3 linked regions of the Homo sapiens genome follow. Each later gene encodes a partner of the first gene's protein in a complex. Each region holds a gene or a part of one and is shown on either strand. Other genes may lie near its edges. A codon is read from its position in the direction of its gene.

Evidence for each region.
Region 2: the proteins of SCAP (region 1) and INSIG2 are in contact, whole or in part, in a cryo-EM structure (PDB 7ETW), measured with the Homo sapiens proteins. Residues at the interface, in NP_036367.2 of Homo sapiens: Pro200 (codon at 3,469), Ser206 (codon at 3,487), Val282 (codon at 4,886), Ala283 (codon at 4,889), Glu284 (codon at 4,892), Ile286 (codon at 4,898), Pro287 (codon at 4,901), Thr290 (codon at 4,910), Ile294 (codon at 4,922), Ala297 (codon at 4,931), Tyr298 (codon at 4,934), Phe301 (codon at 4,943), Lys305 (codon at 5,340), Tyr351 (codon at 6,917), Val354 (codon at 6,926), Val355 (codon at 6,929), Glu359 (codon at 6,941), Thr409, Leu410, Val411, Ser638, Tyr639; in NP_001308258.1 of Homo sapiens: Phe41, Val45, Leu48, Leu49, Ile51, Val55, Leu57, Phe58, Pro59, Val62, Ser65, Ile66, Glu104, Trp105, Ser106, Met109, Arg110, Val112, Ala113, Val114, Val116, Gly117, His120, Gln132.
Region 3: SCAP (region 1) and RNF139 share a complex: the UniProt entries of both Homo sapiens proteins name them as parts of the SCAP-SREBP complex.

Annotation. Positions count from the first base shown.
Region 1 is NC_000003.12:47,423,842-47,430,948, reverse strand, and holds part of SCAP (sterol regulatory element-binding protein cleavage-activating protein), read left to right. Parts: intron 1-2,278; coding exon 2,279-2,436; intron 2,437-3,281; coding exon 3,282-3,502; intron 3,503-3,686; coding exon 3,687-3,792; intron 3,793-4,779; coding exon 4,780-4,952; intron 4,953-5,337; coding exon 5,338-5,464; intron 5,465-6,903; coding exon 6,904-7,016; intron 7,017-7,107. UniProt on the Homo sapiens protein: Escort protein required for cholesterol as well as lipid homeostasis.
Region 2 is NC_000002.12:118,084,228-118,091,524, reverse strand, and holds the start of INSIG2 (insulin-induced gene 2 protein), read right to left. Parts: upstream 3,055-7,297; 5' UTR 2,984-3,054; exon of another isoform or gene 2,545-2,983; intron 1-2,544. UniProt on the Homo sapiens protein: Oxysterol-binding protein that mediates feedback control of cholesterol synthesis by controlling both endoplasmic reticulum to Golgi transport of SCAP and degradation of HMGCR.
Region 3 is NC_000008.11:124,470,909-124,477,886, reverse strand, and holds the start of RNF139 (E3 ubiquitin-protein ligase RNF139), read right to left. Parts: upstream 3,008-6,978; 5' UTR 2,778-3,007; coding exon 2,597-2,777; intron 1-2,596. UniProt on the Homo sapiens protein: E3-ubiquitin ligase; acts as a negative regulator of cell proliferation through mechanisms involving G2/M arrest and cell death.

The sequences.
Region 1 (7,107 bases):
GCTTGGTCAGCATCTTGGCCCTTGCCTATGCTGTAACCTGGAGTACTGCATTGGTGAGTGGCTCCATGGCCTCCCTTTCATCCACACGCATGCCCCTTGGAGTTCCCGACTGCAGCCCAGGCGTGGAGACAGCCCCTCATCCCTCAGCTGGGCTGGGCCCTGCCCCCTTCAGTCCACACCTCGCAGTACACCGCTGTCTAGGGCCATGTTTCCTTGTCTCCAGTTGTCACCAACTCCCGGGGAGTCTTTACAGAGCACTGCTTTCATCAGGTTGCCCCTTCACCTCAGAGACACTGGGCTTTGCTTTGTCAACTGATTAAAATCCTGACAGCTCAGTCAGGCTTCAGTCTAAGCCTGCTTGTCATCTTCCTCGTAATTTCTGTTATCCCCTGACAGGTTTCCTTGGTGCAGATGTCCAGGCCTTCTGTGCTCTCAGCATCCCTTGCAACTCACATTCCCTCCTGCTCCTCTCCTACCTGTTCTTTTCTAACCTTATGGCTCTACTCAGCTTCTCCTGGGCCATAACTCTGCTGTGGCTGACCCAGCATGTTTTGGGGTGCTCCGCGACATGCCTGTTACTGAGGGTTGCATATGTGAACACTCTTGTCATTTACATCCCTGTTAAGCTCTTGAAAGGTAGATGGCAGATTCTAGTGAGAAAAGTATGTGATATTTAGTGAGGAGACCTTGGTTTGAGTCCTTACACCACCCTGCCTGGAGTGTGAAGCTCTAGGCAGGCACAATGCCTGAGCCTCTCCTTGCTTCTCATCAGGCTGTTGTGAGGGTCAGATGAAGTGAAATGCCTGATTGTTCATTGTTAATATTTCTGCTAATCTTTCAGACACTGTTTGTATGCGTGTGTGGTGTGTGCATACATCTTGATGCTGCAGGGTGAATGTCGTTATTCCTGTTTCACAATGAGGAAATTGAAATCCAGAGATGTCAAAAGTGTTTTCAAGGCCATATGTTTGGAAAGCTGTGATTTAAAATTGGGTCCTTTGATCTTCAAAACCCGCTACTCTGCTGCAAGTGACAAAACCTGAATCAGTAAGACAGGTTACATGCTTTGGGGAGTGTAGAGTCTATAGTGCGGTCAGCAGACATGTTCCATAAAGGGCTAGATAGTAAACATTTAGGCTTTGCGGGCCAGACGGCCTCTGTTGCAGCCATTTGACCCTGCTGTTGTAGAGTGAAAGCAGCCATAGACAATAGTAATGGTAGGGGTGTGGCTGTGCTTCAGTAAAAATTGGAAGTGGAAAAACAGGCACTAACCAGCCTGGGCAACATAGTGAGACCCCATCTCTACAGAAAATAAAGAAGTTAGCCAGGTGTGGCACTTCGGGAGGCCAAAATGGGAGGATCACTTGAGCCCAGGAGTTCGAGACCAGCCTGGCAACATAGTGATACCCTGTCCCTACAAAACATTTTTGAAAATTAGGCGTGGTGGTGGTGCACACACCTCTAGTCTCAGCTACTTGGTGGGTGGGGGTGCTGAGGTGGGAGGATCTCTTGAGCCTGGGAGATTGAGGTTTCAGTGAGCCATGATTGGGCAATAGAGCAAGACCCTGTCTCAAAAAGAAAAACAGGCATGGGCCCTGATTTGGCCTACAGGCCATCGTTTGCCTACACCTGGTCCCACAGTGCTTTGCCCATAGTAGATGTGTTATTGAGCAAAAGAGGCTCGCTGCCCAATGTGCTAGAAGCCAATACTGTGACACCAGGATTTGGGGAAAAGAAAAGCTTTATATTGAAGGTTGACTCCCTAGGAGACCGGAGTCCAGCTCAAATCTGTCTCCCTGTGCTGGCTTTAAGGCAGTAATTTTATTAGGAAAGGTTTAGAGGGTGGATACTAGGATTAGCAGATGATTGATGGAAGGAAGGGTGATTTCTGGGAAGTCTTTGAGCATGCCCAGTTATCTCTTGATGCCACCTCACAGGTCCCATGTGCAAATTCCGGGGGGAGTTAGTATGAAACATGGCAGTGGAAATTCAGGCTGTGACATCGGCAAGCTCATTCTGCACAACTCCAGTCGGCCATCTTGGTTCCAGCTTATTTCAGCCAGTTCTTTTATCTCATAAGCGGAGGGAGTTTCTGGGTTTCAGCAAATTGTTTCTTTTCTTATCTGCCATCCTGCAAACTCAAGAACTTGTATTAGTCATTGGTTTCTTTAACTCTGTGGGGCACGGTTTCCAATGCCCATTAAATCCCTTGAATTGGACCGTCTTTCTTCTTCCTGTGCTCAGCTGCCCTTTCTGCCCTCCCTCATTTCTTCTGCAGTATGTGGGTGCCCCGGTGGCTTATGTCCAGCAGATATTTGTGAAGTCCTCAGTGTTTCCCTGGCACAAGAACCTCCTGGCAGTAGATGTATTTCGTTCACCTTTGTCCCGGGCATTCCAACTGGTGGAGGAGATCCGGAACCACGTGCTGAGAGACAGGTACCCCTCTCAGGGACCCTGGCCTCCCTGAATCCCATTCTGTACTGAAGGGAGAGTTACAGTCCTCAGTGTAACTGCAGTGAGCCAGTCAGCTCTGCAGAGATAGAACAAGCAAGAAGGATGGAGGGTGAGCTAGCCTTGAATTTCTCAGCATCCTTGTGGGTCTACGGTGGCTGCATTCCGCTTGGACCTATGCAGATGGCACACACATAGCCTTGAGTCTCATCCTTACATCTCAGATGGAGTCAGTGTCCACTGTGCTAACTCATGACCCACATGGCTTCCTGCCTGTGGGTTATGGTGTGAATGTAATGGTGGTGTCTCTGCCGACGAGAAGCAAGCTCTACCTGGGGGTACCTTCTGAAGCCCCAGCCCAAGTCGTGCTCCCCTGCCTATCAGTGGGTCCCTGGGTTATGCTGGCTTGGCATACAATGTGTGTAATTGGCAAGCTGCATCACTGCCAGGTTTTAGTTAGCTAGTGGCGTTGACAGATATTTTGGTGAACTAAATGAAGCCCCTAATTTACCCCGGTCCCTGCTCATCCACTGAACTGGCCAGGGTGTTTTAGTGGGTGGGGTTGTGCATGCTCTTATAGTACACTTGCCCGTCCTCAGAGCTGATGGGCTTTTGGGCTTCAGATGCACTTTGAAAGTCAGACAGCCACATGTTTAGGTTATTGGCCACCTGGAAGTACTTCCCCCTGCTGCCCTAGTGGTCAGGCTCTTTGGCGATACCAGAGAGCAAATATGGGGCATTGAAGAACAGACAGAGGATGTCCCCTAAGTACAGCAGGTCTGCCCTGTGGTGGCAGACACAGCAGGTGCCTTGTCCTGTCTCCTGTGCAGCTCTGGGATCAGGAGCTTGGAGGAGTTGTGTCTGCAAGTGACCGACCTGCTGCCAGGCCTTAGGAAGCTCAGGAACCTACTCCCTGAGCATGGATGCCTGCTGCTGTCCCCTGGGAACTTCTGGCAGAATGACTGGGAACGCTTCCATGCTGATCCTGACATCATTGGGACCATCCACCAGCACGAGCCTAAAACCCTGCAGACTTCAGCCACACTCAAAGGTAGCCCCAGTACAAGTTCCCTTCAGACCTGTAAAGGTGCCCATTGGTCACCGTCTTTTTGATGTGTGCTTAGGCAGATCAGGGTTTACCCTTTGTTTCCCAGGGTGGGGGTGAGAAAGGGGTCCTTGGTGGCTCTGCAGTAGCTGTCATTTCTGTGTCAGTACCTGCTGGTTTCTGCTTGCAGACTTGTTATTTGGTGTTCCTGGGAAGTACAGCGGGGTGAGCCTCTACACCAGGAAGAGGATGGTCTCCTACACCATCACCCTGGTCTTCCAGCACTACCATGCCAAGTAAGATTGACAGTACCCTGGGCTCTTGACTGGTCTGCTGGGTGACATGAGGCTTTGAGTAGTCCCTCTTCTGGTTAGAGTGTTCTGAATGCCCCCTGGAAACTTGGGAGAGTTTCCAGGCCTCCTGTTGAATGTTTACATCCCTCAGACTAGATGATGCTGTCTACCACATTTTAATGGGGATGACCTGACAGCTGGTTAAGCATAGGGGACTAAGGTAGGGCTGGCGGTCTCAGTGTCCTGGTGCCTCCTCTGGTCTCTCTTGAGCCTAGGGCAGGCATCCCCAGCTGGTTACTACTGAGCACCCTATATGGCCTGTGTCCTTCCCAGTGGGGCACTGCAGGCAGCTCCCCAATTGGCAAGGGCACTCGAGGTGCTTCTGATCGGCTCTCCTAGGCCTCTGGCAATCAAGAGTGTTGGAGGCCGGGCGCGGTGGCTCACGCCTGTAATCCCAGACTTTGGGAGGCCGAGGCAGGCGGATCATGAGGTCAGGAGATCGAGACCATCCTGGCTAACACGGTGAAACCCCGTCTCTACTAAAAATACAAAAAATTAGCCGGGCGTGGTGGTGGGCACCTGTAGTCCCAGCTACTCGGGAGGCTGAGGCAGGAGGATGGTGTGAACCCAGGAGGCGGAGCTTGCAGTGAGCCCAGATGGCGCCACTGCACTCCAGCCTGGGCGACAGCGAGACTCTTGTCTCAAAAAATAAAAAATAAAATAAATAAATAAATAAAAAAGAGAGTGTTGGAGTAGGTCCGGAAAGGGAGACAAAGAAAGGAGCAGGGGGAGCTCCTGAGAAAACTTTGTCCCCTTTGTGATTTTCCCAGTGCCCCTGGAGACTATAGAGAAGCTCAGGCACCATAGAGAAGTTCCCTTTCAACACAGGGGCAGGAGGGAGGTCCTGATGGACCCTCTGTCCGGGGATTGTCTTTGTCCCCAGAACCAAGAGCAACACTTCCATTTACCCCCACCCTGCTCCTTGACCAGGTTCCTGGGCAGCCTGCGTGCCCGCCTGATGCTTCTGCACCCCAGCCCCAACTGCAGCCTTCGGGCGGAGAGCCTGGTCCACGTGCACTTCAAGGAGGAGATTGGTGTCGCTGAGCTCATCCCCCTTGTGACCACCTACATCATCTTGTTTGCCTACATCTACTTCTCCACGCGTAGGTTCATGGCAGGGAGGCTGAGGGCTTTCTCCAAGCTAAACGGGCATTTCCATGTCACCTGCTTCCCTGGCTCTGGAGGTGGCTTGGGGTAGAGAGATAGAACACACCTGGTGGTCATCAGAGCTAGGGCTTTGTCCCCCAGCAGGGTCTTAGGAGCTTGGGTGGGGCCGGGGCTCTTCCCACTTTCAGCCCCTTCCTGGGTTAGGGTTCCTAAAAGGTGTACTGTGTCCATGACACTGGGAAGTGCTTGTGCCTGTCCCTTTCCTTTGGTGAAACCAGGAGTTTTCCCTTCCTCGACTGTCAGGGCAACCTACTCCCGGGAGCCCCAGTGGGCCGGGGGCTGGGGGAGGGGCCGCCCTGATACGCCCTCTCTGCCCTCCAGGGAAGATCGACATGGTCAAGTCCAAGTGGGGGCTGGCCCTGGCTGCCGTGGTCACAGTGCTCAGCTCGCTGCTCATGTCTGTGGGACTCTGCACACTCTTCGGCCTGACGCCCACCCTCAATGGCGGGTAGGTCCCTAGCAGGCTCCACTGGGCCACAGGGTGGGCTCAGGCCAGAGAGCCTTGCACTTCTGGGTTCTTGGCCTTCCCTGGACTTTGCTGTGACCTCACGTCTTCACATTGTTGTTTTTGACATTTAAGAGGTACATTTTCTTCCTCTTCTTTGTCTGGCTTGTATTCATACTTGTGTTTGTATATAGCATATCTAGCTATAGTGAGTGTCCATATGTACAAAAGTGCATATTTGTGGGCTGGGTGTGTATATAAGGGGTGTGTGTTGGTATGTTTGTGTATACATGAGTATGTATTGCATGTGTGTAGTCGGATTTGTGTGTCTGTGTTTATGTATTCTATATACACACACCACACACACACTGCAGCTTGATGGCTTAAGCCACTGGAGGTGTGAGATAGAGAAGAGAACATTTTTTTTTTCATGATTAGAACATTTAAATGCCTAATGAAATAGGTCATTTTAGAGGAAGCTCTTTGGAAGATATGAGCACACTGTAATTTGTCGCCTTTTTCACTGATGTTTACTTTCCCCTTGCCACTCCTCTCTGAACCTTAGTCTGGAAGCCCTTCCCTCGGCTTGTCCTCAGGCTTTGATCTTGGCTCTGGCTAGGCCCGCCTGCCTGTCTATTAATGGTTATTAATGGATTATGGATTGGCCTGTCCACCACTTTGGCCCATCAGGCTGGTCGTATGAAAAGCGACGTCGTATTTTGTTTCTGGTAGTTTCGTTGCTCTTAGATACCTGCTCCCTTTCCTGAGCTTGACACTGTTAAACACCACCCTCCCCCATACCGTCTGCCATACCCTTCACAGGGCCCTCCCTTCCTTCGGCTCCAAAGCAGAGGTCCTGCAAGGTATAACTTGGCTGGCGTTCCTCGCACATAGACTTTCTTAGGGTTTGCTGCGGGGAGTGTGGGACAGTGGGCTCAGATAGCTGGTAGAGCTTTGTGTAGGAACAGTCGTTCTTCTCCACACACAGCTTCTCAACAAAGGTGAGTGGGCCTTCAGGATGGTTTCATCTCCTTGCATTTAGCTGTGATGGGTCCACCCAGAGTTACTGGTGTGGGTCTTGGCAGCAGTCATTGTCTTTAGCCAGCAGTCTTCTCCTGGGAAGGGCCAGCAGAAGTGTGGTCTAGCAGTGGCGCTGCACAGCTCTCCCTGAGGGGCCTCTTCCAGCCCTCCTGTGCTGGATGGCTAGAGACAGGATGGCTGCTGGCCCCTCTGCAAGGCTCTGGAGCCTGCCTGAAAGCTGAGTGCTGTGTAGATGCAGGTCTTGTTGGGTGAGGTGGACAAGGGAGGGTTTCTGCCCAGCACCTGTGGGAGTCACTCAGCAGCCCCCATGACAGGCTGGAAACCCCACAGCCTTCCTGAGGGCCCCAGTCTGTTGGGAACCACCACAACACTGTCCTCACCTTCTCCTTCTCTGTCCCCAGCGAGATTTTCCCCTACCTTGTGGTGGTTATTGGGTTAGAGAATGTGTTGGTGCTCACCAAGTCTGTGGTCTCAACCCCGGTAGACCTGGAGGTGAAGCTGCGGATCGCCCAAGGTAACGCAGTGGGAGAGTTGGGCAGAGGGCTGCAGGAGGGGCTGGAATGGGGCCTGTTCCTCTTGCTGTTAACGCTCTGTGAGCAAACAGA
Region 2 (7,297 bases), on another chromosome or scaffold:
GATGAAAGTTCCATAATTTATATAAAGTACTCAAAAAAGTCCATGATCCAAACAAAGTAAAGAATCAGTAATCTAACAATTCTCTCACTCTATTAGCAAGGCCAATGACATGCAAAGTAGTCAACTGGATTAACAAGATTAAGACAGTACCATCAGTTCTTATTACCACAAACGTGTATAGTGAATGCCAGAAAATGACCAGACTCATCAAAGGGATAGAGGCGTCCACAAAACCATTTCACCCCCTACCATGCAACAATGAAATTCCTTTAAAAGCATGTTTATAATATCAGTTGCACACTAGAGGAGTCAGAGGAGTGGGTTATTTTCAAGGGAAAGTAAGCTCCCTTAGTTTACTTTGAAGTTTGTTTTTCTGATTTTGTACTGATACCATTTTCTTAAAACAAAGTGGATCTATATCTTTAAATATTAGTCTTACATTAATGATAAACTTGATGCTCCAAAATTTTTTTTAAAAATCTATATTTGAAAAATTTAGATTACTTGACAAATAATTTGCTGACCAGGGAAAAAGTCTCTGGTATAAAGATACTGTTTAAAGGACAATATGTCAATAGATTCTCGAAAACAATCTTGGTAAATAGGCAGGTGTTGTTAGTTTCCATTTTACAAAATAAAATAGGTTAAGTAACTTTCCAAGATCACAGAACTGTTACCAGGTAGCACCAGGACTAGGCTCACCCACTCTGACCCCATGTCCGGAGTTCTTCCTGCTTCACCACACTGCTTCCATTCACAAACATGGTACAAAACAATTTAAGTGCCACACAAGAAACCGTTTTTAAAATCATGTTGGTAAACTACTATTAATACCAAAATAATGTTTTCAACAATTCACAAAGAAAAACTTTCCACCAGACTTGAAAAATTCTACGCTGAGCCCTGGCCTAAAATTTCTGGAAAGTACAATACTAAACAAAAAGAAAAAAAGTTGAAATAATTTGCATAGATCAATGATGAATCATCAATACTGGAAAAACATTATTCCAGGTGTATGGCTGCCTATTAATGGATTGATATTATTACTTTCAGGTTAAAAAAGAGTTATAAGTGATTATGAGCTTCGTGAATAAAAATCAAGGTTCATGTTGGCCACTGAAACAACTTAGAGGCAACAAGCATTTGAAAACAAACACACATACAAAATCTTCTAGTAACCTTAAGAACCTGTTGCATTGTAACAACTGCAACACCCCCTAAAACCAAATGACAAGACCATTCCTCTTCCAATGATTAGCCGTAAAAGAAGTATTTTTACTCCCTCAGATAACCCTGTTTCTTCAGGTGCTTAGGTCACGTAAGCTACTAAATAATAAAGTTAAATTACTACCTCACATATTTTTCATCATATGCTCTCTTAATTAGAATAGCATTCTTGAAATAGAATAAGCACTAACATTAGAAAAAAACAGACTTAAATCAATGCAACAGTTTAATGCTCCCTAAATAAAAACACATCTACATGTATCATGGGCTAGAGACGTTAAAAATTTCTAGGAAGAAAAGCAATATTTGCCTTATAAACACTGCAACTCTTTCCTCTCAACATTAAAACCCAAACATAGAAACCAGTAAGTTAGCTGCATTTACAGCCCCTTACAGGTTTTAAATGTCACATCTCAGTGCCTAAAAAAGTTACTCCATCGTTTCGAGATAAGTTTCTGAGAACAAAGAAAACTCTTTAAACTACTGAACTGCATTTTATTCTTTCCTTTTCCGTGTGACCATCTGCAAAAGCAACAGTTGTCAGTTAAACAGAATCAACCTCTTTCCCGAGTGGACATGATTCACAGCTTGGTCACTGTACAGCAGATGTGAACTGAGAACTACGACATAACACAATGACAAAACACAGTACTGAGCACAAAGTACAGGGAAAGAATGAAAGACAGAAAACAGGAAGAGCACACGTCTGATTTTTGTTTTCTTTGGGGCCCCCATTAGTAGCATTCCCTTCATCCATCTTCATTCAGTGGTTCACTATCAGGGCCAAACCCAAAAGTTACAAAACACCATCTAGCTACTGTCTGGCTGCTTTTATTTTTTCTGCACCAGGACGGGAGCACGCATTCCCCTGCAGTCCTCAGCTCCACCGCAATACTGATACCAAACAGTTTCAGTGGCCCAGCTGCCAAGCCTAACCATTCCTTTTTAAAGCATTTCTTCATCAATCCTACAAAACAGCAAGTTCTTCATGGTATATTTTCCTAGAGCATCTAGCTAATATCATACTTTAACAACTTTTTCCAACGTTAACTGGACATGGGTCATTATCACTTAAGTGTTAGCGCCATTGCCCGCGCCCACTCCCATAATCCACACTGCTTTCCTTCTCCATATTGCCAATCCCCACTAAGCAACCCTAAAATCTAGTAATTATCATCAAATCCACTTCTAGGCCCTGGCAAGAATTATTTGGCTTTACCGAAACACCTATTCCATAGGTAACCAATTCCAGTCAAAAATGCCAGAGTATTACTCCTCAACCCAATGCCCTATCTCCTTAGTGGATTATAAACTTACTACGACAACCTGTCTTCTTTGGATCCAATCCCCGCCCAAGTCTGAGTCTTCTCTCCCAGGCTACAAGCCCCCAAGTCCTGGCAGCTCTATGCTTGACAGCTCGCTGACCTCCACCTCATCAGACCATTGGGTCGCCCTTCTCGCCGTCCTCCAGCCTTCTTCCCGCTCAGACACTCATCCACTGTCCGGGGAGCCTCGACCCCTCCTATACCCCCTCCCCGATCCCGCAGTCCCCTTCTGGACCTTGCGGACCCCTCTCAGGTAAGCGGAGCCCCTTGCCCTGCAGGCCCATCAGTGGTCCTGGCTCCCCGCACCTGCCACCAGGGTTCCCAGGCTGCAAAAACACAAGTAGTTCTTCTTCCCAAGGGCCACCCTCCTCCTCAGGCCGCTTTCCTCAGCACCACGTCACCCGCGCTTCGCCGGGAGACCCCCAACTCACCCCCGCCTCCGCCATCTTCTGGGACCAGCCCCCGTACCCCCTACCGCCTCTTCCTCCTCCACTCCCACAACTCCGCCCGAGCTCCACTGCGCCTGTGCGGCCAACGAGGCCGCGCGCAGGCGATCGGGGCAGAAGAGCTTCCGGTTCCTGCTGTCAATAAGACGTGGACCTGCGAGCCGGGGCAAAAGGGCTTCCGGTCTGCGGGAAACTGGAGGCTAGCGGTGGGCGTGGACCGTCGAGGTGACTGGCGGTTGTCGGATCTGCTGTTGTTTGCTGACCAGGCAGCCGTAGGTAATGACGGATGCCCAGACCCTGTGGGCGGAGTAAAGGAATCATGCACTGATACACGCACACTCACCGAGGGGCGCGTCCGTCTGCGTGCCCCTCATCTCGTAGCCGAAAGGAGCGCGTTCCGGGGCAGGCCTCCGGGTACTTCCCGCAGAGGACCGGGCTTTATACTCTTTGCTCCTTTTCCTCCCCTAGTAAGTCATAACTTATTTTGGGAGAAGGGCATAGTTATTTGTCTCTCGTCTCCATGCTACAGCACTTTATGTGCTTTTCATTCAAAATCGTTCCTCGAGGACGACCAAGTAATGTGATTTGGGGGACAGTTTTCATAGGAAGGGCTTTATAAGTTTACACCAACATAAAGAAAACTTAAAAACCTTATAACCGCTTATTTTTCAGAAGTATTATTTTTCATTTAATCTAAAACCATACTTTTAGAACATGAAACCAAGCCAAACAGATCTTTGCAGATTGTGCAAGCGAACTTTTTTTTTTGAATGAAAGTGGTGCCATCAATGCAAAAGCAAGCCCATATAAGTGCCGAAAGGTACTCGTCATAAGGAGGAGTTGCTTCCCTATTCTGAATTTTTATTTATTTTTATTTATTTATTTATTTGAGACGGAGTCTCTCTCTGTCACCCAGGCTGGAGTGCACTGGCATGATCTCGGCTCACTGCAACCTCTGCCTCCCGGGTTCAAGTGATTCTTCTGCCTCAGCCTCCCCAGTAGCTGGGACTACAGGTACATGCCACCATGTCTGCCTACTTTTTGTATTTTTAGTAGAGATGGAGTTTCATCATATTGGCCAGGCTGGTCTCAAACTCCTGACCTCGTGATTCGCCCGCCTCATCCTCCCAAAGTGCTGGGATTACAGGCGTGAGCTGCCCCCTGAATTTGTTTTTTTTAAGCAACTCTTTTTAAAAAGAGAGAAAAAATAATCTCTCTTGAGTGTATTAGTTATTGAGCTATTCCATTTGGAGGTGGCTTAACCCAAAACGTGTATGGATGTGGTAAGATTACAATGGACTTGAATGTTCTAGATGAAATCTGGGCCGAGAGTAATTGCATAATAGTTTTCCAAAGGACTGTCAGATGGTAAACTCCTTTCATTTACTTTGAACTGATAAACGATAAGATGGATTTTTGTTTTTTGACCTTTTTATCTACATTTACTTCTGAAAATTGAAAAAGAATCTGAATTCCAACAAAATGTTTCTAGGCAAGTATTTGCATGATGCTTCTCTAACATTTCCTATATCTTAGTGTTTTCTCTAATGTTTTCTGTAGCTTTCAAATTTCACTCCTGTAAGTTTTTACACTACCAGTAAGAAAGATCTGGGCCAATTATACAGAATGGACGATGATTTTTAAAAGAATAGAGAAAGCATTCAGAAAAGAGACAATAATTTGAAAATGTTCTGACATCATGTATTTCCTTAAAGCAATACAAGTCCTGTATGTCCAGTTCATGTCTACTCCAACCGAGCTTTTTTCAGACACTTAGAAATTGCCTTCAAGAAAATCCTTATGGAACATTGTAACCTAGAGGGGCATTTATTTTCGTTTAAATATGTATTAATTGCAAGTAGTGACAGAACCTAAAAAGCAAAAACCATATAGCACCAGTTCCAAGGTTCCTATATCTAATGCAGTTACTCCTACTGCAGTACAAGGAGGAATATAAAATCCCTAGGAGAAATACAAAAGGCCATTGTCTTCTTTGACCAGATTTGAGGAAAGTTTTCATGGAAGATGTGGTCTTTCAGTGGGCGTTGAGGGTAAATATGCAGATATGGTTAGCCTGTGCATTCTGGTGGAAGCTCAGAGTTGGAAAAACATGAAACAGATTGCAGAGTCTGGCATGTACAAAGAGGTATGGTGAGACATGTGAGTTCTAAACATCAGGCTCATGAATTTGGACTAAATTTTTGTTATGGAAACATGGAAATCCTAAATTAATTGATGCCAGAATATAAATTGGTTAAGAACATCAAGAAATCATAACAACTGAGTTATTTTGAAGTTGGTGTAATGTGGTCAATGGAACGCTGGTGAATGATCCTTGAAACCTGGATTGTATTTTAGCACTAAGACAGTATGCGTGTAATCACTTGCAATAAATTCATTTTTTTAGGCTTTCTTCTTTTCATCTGTAAAATGAGAGATTGGTTTAGATGATTTCTGAGGTCTTTTTTATAGGTAGAAGTATCAACAATTTGATAATTCTTGACCTCAAGAAAGGTTTTTTCCATTAGCTTTATATGTTGTTTGGTCTCCCAACCAAGAAGATCAAAGATAAGTTAGAAAACAAAAAGCCCTTTACTTAGCTAATACAAACACCCACAAAAGTTTATTGACTTTGTTGGAGTGAGATATTGTAGGAGTCACATTAATTATTGCCTACAGGTTGATGACTAAGCCATTCAGTAAGCCTCTAAGAACCTTGGACTTGGAAACATTACCCAAATTAAAAACATCCAAGATAATTTTTTTACTATTGCAATTTTCCTATTCAGTAGCTAGAACCCCACACACTACAGACCATTCTACTTTTTTGGTTTTGGTTTTTGTTACGGTGTTTTGATGTGAAATATGTTTGAGGGACATAGAAAGTCAAGGAATTTTGCTTTTTTGAGAGATCAGAATGGATTATTTACTAAGCCAGCTATCACCTGAGCACCTGGCAGGTACCAGACACTTGGCACTGGACTTTAGGAGGAAATCAATACAGACAAGCCACATTCCTTTGTGAAGCTAGAGTCCTGTGGGGGAAACACAGTAAATGGTGGAATTCATATGTAATTACAAACTGAGACAAGTGCCATGAAGATGGAACATCTCCATATTGTGATGGAGAATAAAGGGGAATACCTGGAGACCATGCGTGAGCTGAAGATTGAGAGGGATCTGCTAAGAGCAGGATGAAGAACAGGTGTGAGGGCACAAAAGCTGAAAAACTTGGTGCATTCTGGGAATTGAAAGAAAGGCAGAGCTGGGGGTAGCAATTGAAAAGAAAATTGCAAATTGAAGTTGTATTTTAACATCATGATTGATGGTAATCACTTTCTGTGTGCCAGGCACTGTGCTAAGTTAAATCTCATTTCACATGCTCAAAACCCATTTGAAATAGATACCAAATAGCAGATGAGAAATTAAGGCTAAAAGCAGTGATTCTTAACTTTGGCTGCATATTAGGATCACCCATAGATTTATTAAAAGTTCTAGTGCCCGAGCCCCACCTGAGCGTTGAGAATCACTGACTTAGTGTTAATCAGTCCAAGGTCACTTCATAGCTAAGTGGCAGAGAAGGCAGAAATTGAACCTAGATCTATTGGATTCTAAACCCTATGCTCTTAGTCACTCACTAGTGCCCTGTCAACATTCACAAGCACGTAGTAAGCAGCAGTTACATGTGGGAACTCTGTTAAACACTGAGACACAACAATGAATAAGACAGATCTCTTGCCATCAATAAATTCACAGCCTGGAAATGCAGAAGTTAGGTCAGCCCACCTCTACAGAAGCAAGTCAACTGAGAACTCTCAATGAGATCAGATATATTTTTCCTATTTTAAGCTAGATTGATGTAGGCAACTGATGACAGGGAATCTACGTGGGCAGCTAGTGCGATTGTCTGCTGAGAGGTGGTGCAAACTTAACAAAGGCAATGGCAGAGGATACAAAGAATCATCAGGACTTGATAACTGCTAATGTTAGGAGTGAAGAAAAGAAGGTGGAAGTTGATTTCAAAGTTTTGAGCCTGAGAGACTGAGTGAAAGTAACATCATTGATCTAGAACAAGAGTACAAGAATTGAATTTCAGGTTGAGTGAGTTTGAAATACTTGTTGAACATTCGGGTAAAAATGTCCAGTAGAGCAGTGGAAATGTGCATCTGGAGTTTGAATCCCCAAATTGGTCTAGAAATGAAGATCTGGAATTATTGACTTAATAGGAGGTAGTTGAAAACATGCCTTGCATAAAGCGTATGCTGTGTTTGGAATTTTTTAAAAGACAATAGAGATACG
Region 3 (6,978 bases), on another chromosome or scaffold:
TTCTGGGTCTTCTGTTATGTTTAAAGCCTTTTCCCACCTCAATGAATTATCACCATATTAGTAATACTATTAAAACAAACTCCTAGGCTTGCATTTTCTGCCTTGGATTTAAATTTGCTAACTCAGCATTATGCTGCTCTGGGTTGAGTTTCGTTTAGTATTTAACATCCCTTAAAACACAGCTTTATGTTCTTCAATATTCCATATATTGTCATAGAATTTTATTTGGATCTCCAAAATGAGTTGCTTTATTTTCTAACCGGTTGAAATCTCAAATTAGTTTGATATCAAATGAAGGTACAGTTGTAGCACCATTTTGTAGGTAGAGGGGAGTAAATACTTCTACCACCACACATAAAACTGGTAATGCTTTTTACTTAGAGATTTCCATTTTTACACATTAATTTTAAAGAAAAAAGTGAGGTTGACAAGTGGTAAGACTTATACACAGTAGTACTGAGAAGTCTACAACTACAAAAAAACTAACAAGGCAGAACGATTAATTTCAACTATCCATTGGCATATTTACACACAAACCTGTGTCTTTTAGTAACATAATTTTTTAGCACCGAAATCAGTTTTTTTCATTCTTATCATCCTTACAAATGTGAAAAATTAGCATAATTACATGACACAGTAAGAAGAGTCGGATGATAGATTTGAAGAGTATTTCGTATTTCTCAAAGTCTGATCCAGAGATTCCAGGGATCAAAATTTTCAAATAAACAACACCAATATTTTGCCGATGATTTCAAAAGACCAAAATATCTAACAAAATATGGTATTAAATGAAGCATTAAAATAGATTTATTGTCTTTAACACCCTATGAAACAGATAACCTCACTCTCCATCTTTTAAAAGGTAAAAATAAGAAACCAAAGCACTGAGCAGTTGCCTTAAGTCATGTTGTTCTTTGTCAAACACAAACTTCCAAGATTTATTACAAAAGAAACATGCCTAGTACAAGGAAAATATCAGATTGCTTTGTTCAATGTTCTTACACTACAAATTATTTAATTAAAGAAAATACTTCTTTTCCTTGAAGCTGCCTAACCTGAAGCTCAACAGACTACTGCATTAAAGCACCAGGTCCCAAAGGGATTCTCACAGAATCTGCAGTTATCATGCTGTAAGAATATTCAAAGCAGTCACTACACTGTTTCTGGGATGAACATGCAGAATCCTCTCAAACAGAGCCCAGTTTTTAACACAAATTATGGTGGTGGTATACGTTAGCAGTGGCAAGTAGGAAAGGCTGGAATTAGGTAGCAGGTGGGTTACTGAAGCAGCTTGGGCTGAACATCACGTTTACATCTTTAGTTTTAAGATCTAGCATATGATCATTACTACTGCATTCTGTATCTGGATTGCAGCTGTTAGGGAGGAAAGTAAACCATATTTAATGTCAAAAGATTTTTAAGCTCAGGCTCTGGCAACCACTTAGCGGCAGCCTACCAAGAGCAAAACACTTAACCTCTATGACCCTGTTTCCTGGTTTGTAAAATGACAATACCACCACCCACCTCTGGGGGATGTTTGAAGGTTAGGTTAGATAATACCTACCAGTGAAAATGCTTTGCAAAAGGAAAATACCAGATAAATGTAAAATATGGCTATTTATTGCTAAGAACAAAATTCGGCCTTTATTGCCACTCCTCTTTTGAAGGAATAAAGCAACAGATGGCTTGTAATTCAGAAAGGCTTGGTAAAGACCTCACCATCAGTCTGCCCTCAGCAACACTTCAAAAGCACTAGCCTACTTAAGACCGATCACCAGAATTACCTCATCAACAAAATTTGCCAAGTTACAATTACTTAAAAAATTATTTTACGCATAAATGCATCTCCCTCTGATGATGTAAGTGAAGATGGAAAGGAAGAAATGAAATATAAGATACTTTTAACACTCCATCCATACGAAACAAAGACAATGATTTTCAGAAGTCTCTTTGGCAAATGTCTCATCACTTTTTACAGTCACTTTCAATACCTTCTCGTTTATTCATGGAAAATTTTAGGACTCGATTTAAGCATCGCCGCTTTCATGAGAATTTTTGGTAATGGTTTCAAGGTCTGACATTCAAAACCCTGTCTCCTTCGCTTGGATGTCATTTACTGCAGACACTTCACGATCCTGTGGACCCTCGGGTGCAGCAGAAGTGACAACATACAAGTACTCGGCATTTGGTAATAAAGGGAAACTGAGGCCCACGCCTTGGCAGAAGTCCAAGGTCACACACGACGAGACTGGGATAGCAGAGTTGTTTTTCGAAGGCTGTCGCATAGGACGCGGTAAGCCAGTACTCATTTCCCAAGGCAAACGGGCAAAGAGCTGCATGCTCACACATCCTTACTTTCTCCCCACCTCACTCAGGTACAACACTGAATCCTCGCTAGGGGGACTGCTCCGCTGTCAACTCAGACAAGTATCATCTCCTTCCCCCTCCCAACCCGTAAAGACGACCCTTTGAGGGATGAAACTGTAGTTCCCAAAGACACATACTCGACCCATGGCCTCTGCGCGCCTGCCCGCTCCCCGGGGAACGTCTCGGCCCGCATAGCCGTCCCGGGACGTACGGTACCCTGTTCCCTTACCAAAGAGCCGGAGGAAGATCTGGAGCACGATGCAGAACCGGCTTTGGCTGGAATCCGGGTAGGAGTTGAAGATGGCGTCGATGATGTAAAGGCAGGGCACCCGGAGCGCCACTTCGAGCGCCGCCCAGACCTGCTGATGGGCCATCCGCACCTGCTGCTGCGGGGGCCCCACGGCCGCCATGAGCCGCTGCCACACCAGGGCTCGGTGGGCCGGGCAGGGCCGCGCGGGGCAGGGCCCGGGGCCGCGGCCGGGGGCGGGGGCTAAGGCGGGCAACTCCGCCCCTGCCCTCCTTCCTCTCCTGTCTCTCTCACGGCCAGCCCCGCCGCCCGCTCGCGTCCCTCGAGGTGGAGCAGGCGGCGGAGGCAGCGATGGCCGAGAGGGCGGCGGCGGCGGCTCCCCAGGAGGTCTCTGGGTTTCGGTGTTTCCGGCTGGCTAAGGTCTGACTCCTCCTCCCTCCACTGCCTCCCCCGCCCGCGGAGCCACCATCTTGACCTCGCCCGCTGGCCTCTGCCGTTGCTGCTGTGGCTAGGCCCGGAGGCTGCGCCGTCAGTCAAGCGAACCGCAGAGTCCGCGCCCACTGCCTGCGTCATAATCCAGCGTCATAATCCAGCGCTAGAGACGCTCCCCATGTCGTCATCACCCATGGTTGCCATGGTTTCCGCCCACCTCCTCAGCTTACTCTAGCTTCGTGCCACCCCGTGGCGCATGCGCTTTTCGGTAGCCGCGCTTTCCGGCGTTGGAGTTGCAGCTTCACCCTCGCAGATTCGGCTTAGCGAGCGAGTCGGTGCTTCCGCGGATCAAAATTATTAGCCGTTTTATTAGAGCCCATTAAACGTTGCATAAACATGGTTCAGAGCTGCCTGGGAGAAGAAAAGCCAAAGGATGCCACCCTCTCGATTTATCCCACCCTCGGGAGTCTGAAAGCCGACGCCAGGAGAAATCCCGCGAAGGCCGCCCGGGATCCTGGTAGAGGCGACGCTGTGTGCGTTTATGGAGCGCTTGCGGTGCGTGGCACTAGGCTGGGTGTGGTGGGTGCTGCCGAAAAAAGGGTTCCTCCCATCCATTTGCACGTCACCCTTCCCACCTCCTGCCCAGATGGACAGAAGTGAGGACATTCATCGGCCGCATTTTACTAATGGCAAGGAGATAGCGACTGAAGGGCAAGAACCTAGGGTTTCCTGTCTTTGATATTTCTCATCTTTGAGGTAAGTACACCTGGACAGTCCCTTCCTTCCTCCTCAGGGCTCATGCTTTCTTGCCTATCCGTGTAATTAATATGATCTGGCTATCTTTGTCTTTGTTCCGAAACTTCAGCTGCAAATGAAAGTGTAAGTTAGGTCTGAGTCTGCACTATAGACCTAGCTATCCTAGGTTAAAGGGGATAAAATAGGAATCAAGAAGCCTGGCCCGCTTGGGCTCCCAGCTCAAGTGCATTCTGCAATCCAGTTTATATTAGGCCTCCATGTGGGTGGCTATCCTTTATCAAGATCCCCCCCAGGGGGAGGAGGATTATTAGTCACATTATCAAACTCCCCTCCAACCCCTTTCTCTGCTTAGAGGTATGTGTAATGTGTAGTAGAAAGACCGAATCCCCACCCAAAAGTCCTTACTGCTACTCATGTTTTTAACCTTCTGTTCTTTACCCTACTCCCTAATAATGACCGCCATCATTTATCTACTGCTTAATGGATACTAGGCACTGTGCTAAGGGTTTTATGTTTTACTTCAATCTTTTCATCGGCTTTATTTTGATAGTTTGTTTTATAGAGGAGGAAACAGACTTAGGTAAGTTACAAGATGACAAGGTTACTACCTTGTTCAGTTAGTAGTCAGCAGCTAGTATATCCAAAGATAGTACGAGTCAGAACTAGGATTATAAACTCAGGGCTACCTGAAACTCACAACTTCAGGCATCTTTGATTTCTTCTTTTCACCCACAGCCAATTCTTCAACTAAATTGTATCCATTCTGTTTTCACCGTCTCTTGTACTGGTCTCCTTTCTATTGTAACTGTCATCATCCTAACTCAAGATCCTTCTGTAGCTTTCCCCGGTTATTGGAATATCCTTATTACGACTGCCACCTTTTCTAATCCAGTCTGTTTACTACTGCCGGGTTAATTTCCCCAAACTGCATGTCTGGGGAATAACCTTGTGGTTATGACAGAATTCCCAAAGGAAAGCAAACTTGGCAAGGTGCAAAGACTATGAAGACTTAGAACTTAAGAGTTCTATGGAGATCTTCAGAAATATAAATTAGCTACTCAACATATCTGTTATTCTGCCCTGATTGCACTGTAAAGCAAAAGGAGAGAGGCCATTATGGGGAAAAAGATCCAAAAGGACTCATCTAAAACACAAGTTGGGTAGAGGAGATAGGTGAGTACTATTATATTATGTTCATGGAAAATGAGTTCATGGGCTTTCCTCTAATTTTTATTTTAAAAATAAATGTAAATATTAAATAAAATTTTTTAAATGAACAAATGCTTCAGTCTTTATTAATGTTTTAACTGTCCCTGATCTTAATTTGATGTACAAATTTTATTAGTGTAAGAGTTTCTTTGACTAAATTCCATCTTGGGCCGAGAACTTTCAGGAGCGGTGGCAGTCTTTTTTTTTTTTCACACAGCTTCTCCAAGCAGGCTCTCTGCCAAACTTGTCCAACCCACCTTATTTTGTTACTGTTGTTGTTCTGTTTTGTTTTAGGCTGTTAACAGCCTGAAGCCATGGTTTTTAGTTTCTGTTTCTAGTGATAAGCGGAAAAGAGAGATGAGGAGGTATTTACTGACCCAACCAGAAGCGGAAACTAAGAACCCATGACTGTATTATCTCCCTTGGACACCCCTGTGTGAGCTCTCTTTCTCCATCTATAAAATGAAGGTTTGAATGAGGTCCTGGCAACTGTGTTAAAATACTACGTTAAAATTAAATTTATAGTAATGAGGTAATTTATAGGATGCTTAGGAATTTTTAAGATAAAAGATGTTTCCAGCTGGGTGTGGTGGCTTATGCCTGAAATCCCGGCACTTTGGGAGGCCAAGGAGGGTGGATTGCTTGAGCCAGAAGTTCAAGACGAGCCTGTCCAACAAGGCAAAACTATATCTTTACAAAAAAATTGTAAAAATAGCTGGATGTGGGCTGGGCGCGGTGGCTCACACCTGTAATTCCAGCACTTTGAGAGGCCGAGGCGGGCGGATCACAAGGTCAGGAGTTCGAGATCAGCCTGGCCGACATGGTAAAACCCCCATGTCTATTAAATATACAAAAATTAGCCGGGTGTGATGGTGGGCACCTGTAATCCCAACTACTTGGGAGGCTGAGGCAGGAGAATTGCTTAAACCCGAGAGGCGGAGGTTGCAGTGAGCCAGGATGGCGCCACTGCACTGCAGCCTGGGTGACAGAGTGAGACTCTGTCTTGGGGGAAAAAAAAATAGCTGGGCATGGTGGCATAGGCCTGTGGTACCAGCTGCTCAGGAGGCTGAGGTGGGAGGATCACTTGAGCCTGCCTTGAGCCTGGGTAGCAGAGGTTGCAGTGAGCCAAGATCACGCCACTGTACTCTAGCCTGGGTGACAGAGTGAGACCCTGTCTCAAAAAAAAGGTAATGTTTCCAAGAAATAGCTACAATTCACTGAATCTAATCTTTGCTTGATTTCTGCATTGATTTGAATGTTGCACAACTCAGGTGTACATTTATATTGAGTCTGCACAGTGTGGTTCATGAGTGTGTGTGTGTGTGTGTGTGAATACACACACACACAAACTGTATACATAGAATACTCGTGTTTGAAAATAACAATCTGTTATAAATCCTTCAGATTTAACAGCTCAGAAAGCCTTTTAGTAGCTTTCAAAACTTTTACAGGTAGGATGTGTAAAAACTAGTTTGAATTTTCTCTTGACATTTGCATTAATGAAGTCTTTGTTTCCTACAACAGAAACTGATTCTTCTGGGTTATCTTAAGCAAAAAGGGAATTTATTAAGGGGTTATTTTCATTATTCCTCAAGATTTCAAGTCCCAGGAGAGACCACCTATATTAGGCCATTCTTGCATTGCTATAAGTACCTGAGGCTGAGTAATTTATAAGAAAAGAAGTTTAATTGGCTCACGGTTCTACAGGCTGTACAGGAAACCTAGTGCCTGCATCTGCTTCTGGGGAGGCCTCAGGAAGCTTTTGCTCATGGTGGAAGGTGAAGTAGGATCAGGCACTTCACATGGCAAAAACAGGAGCGAGGGGGTGGGGATAGGTGTCACACACTTTTAAACAATCAGATCTCATGAGAACTCACTATGGTGAGGACAACACCAAGCCATCAGGGATCAGTCCCCATGACCCAAACACCACCAGGCCCTACCTCTAACTGGGAATTACATCTCAA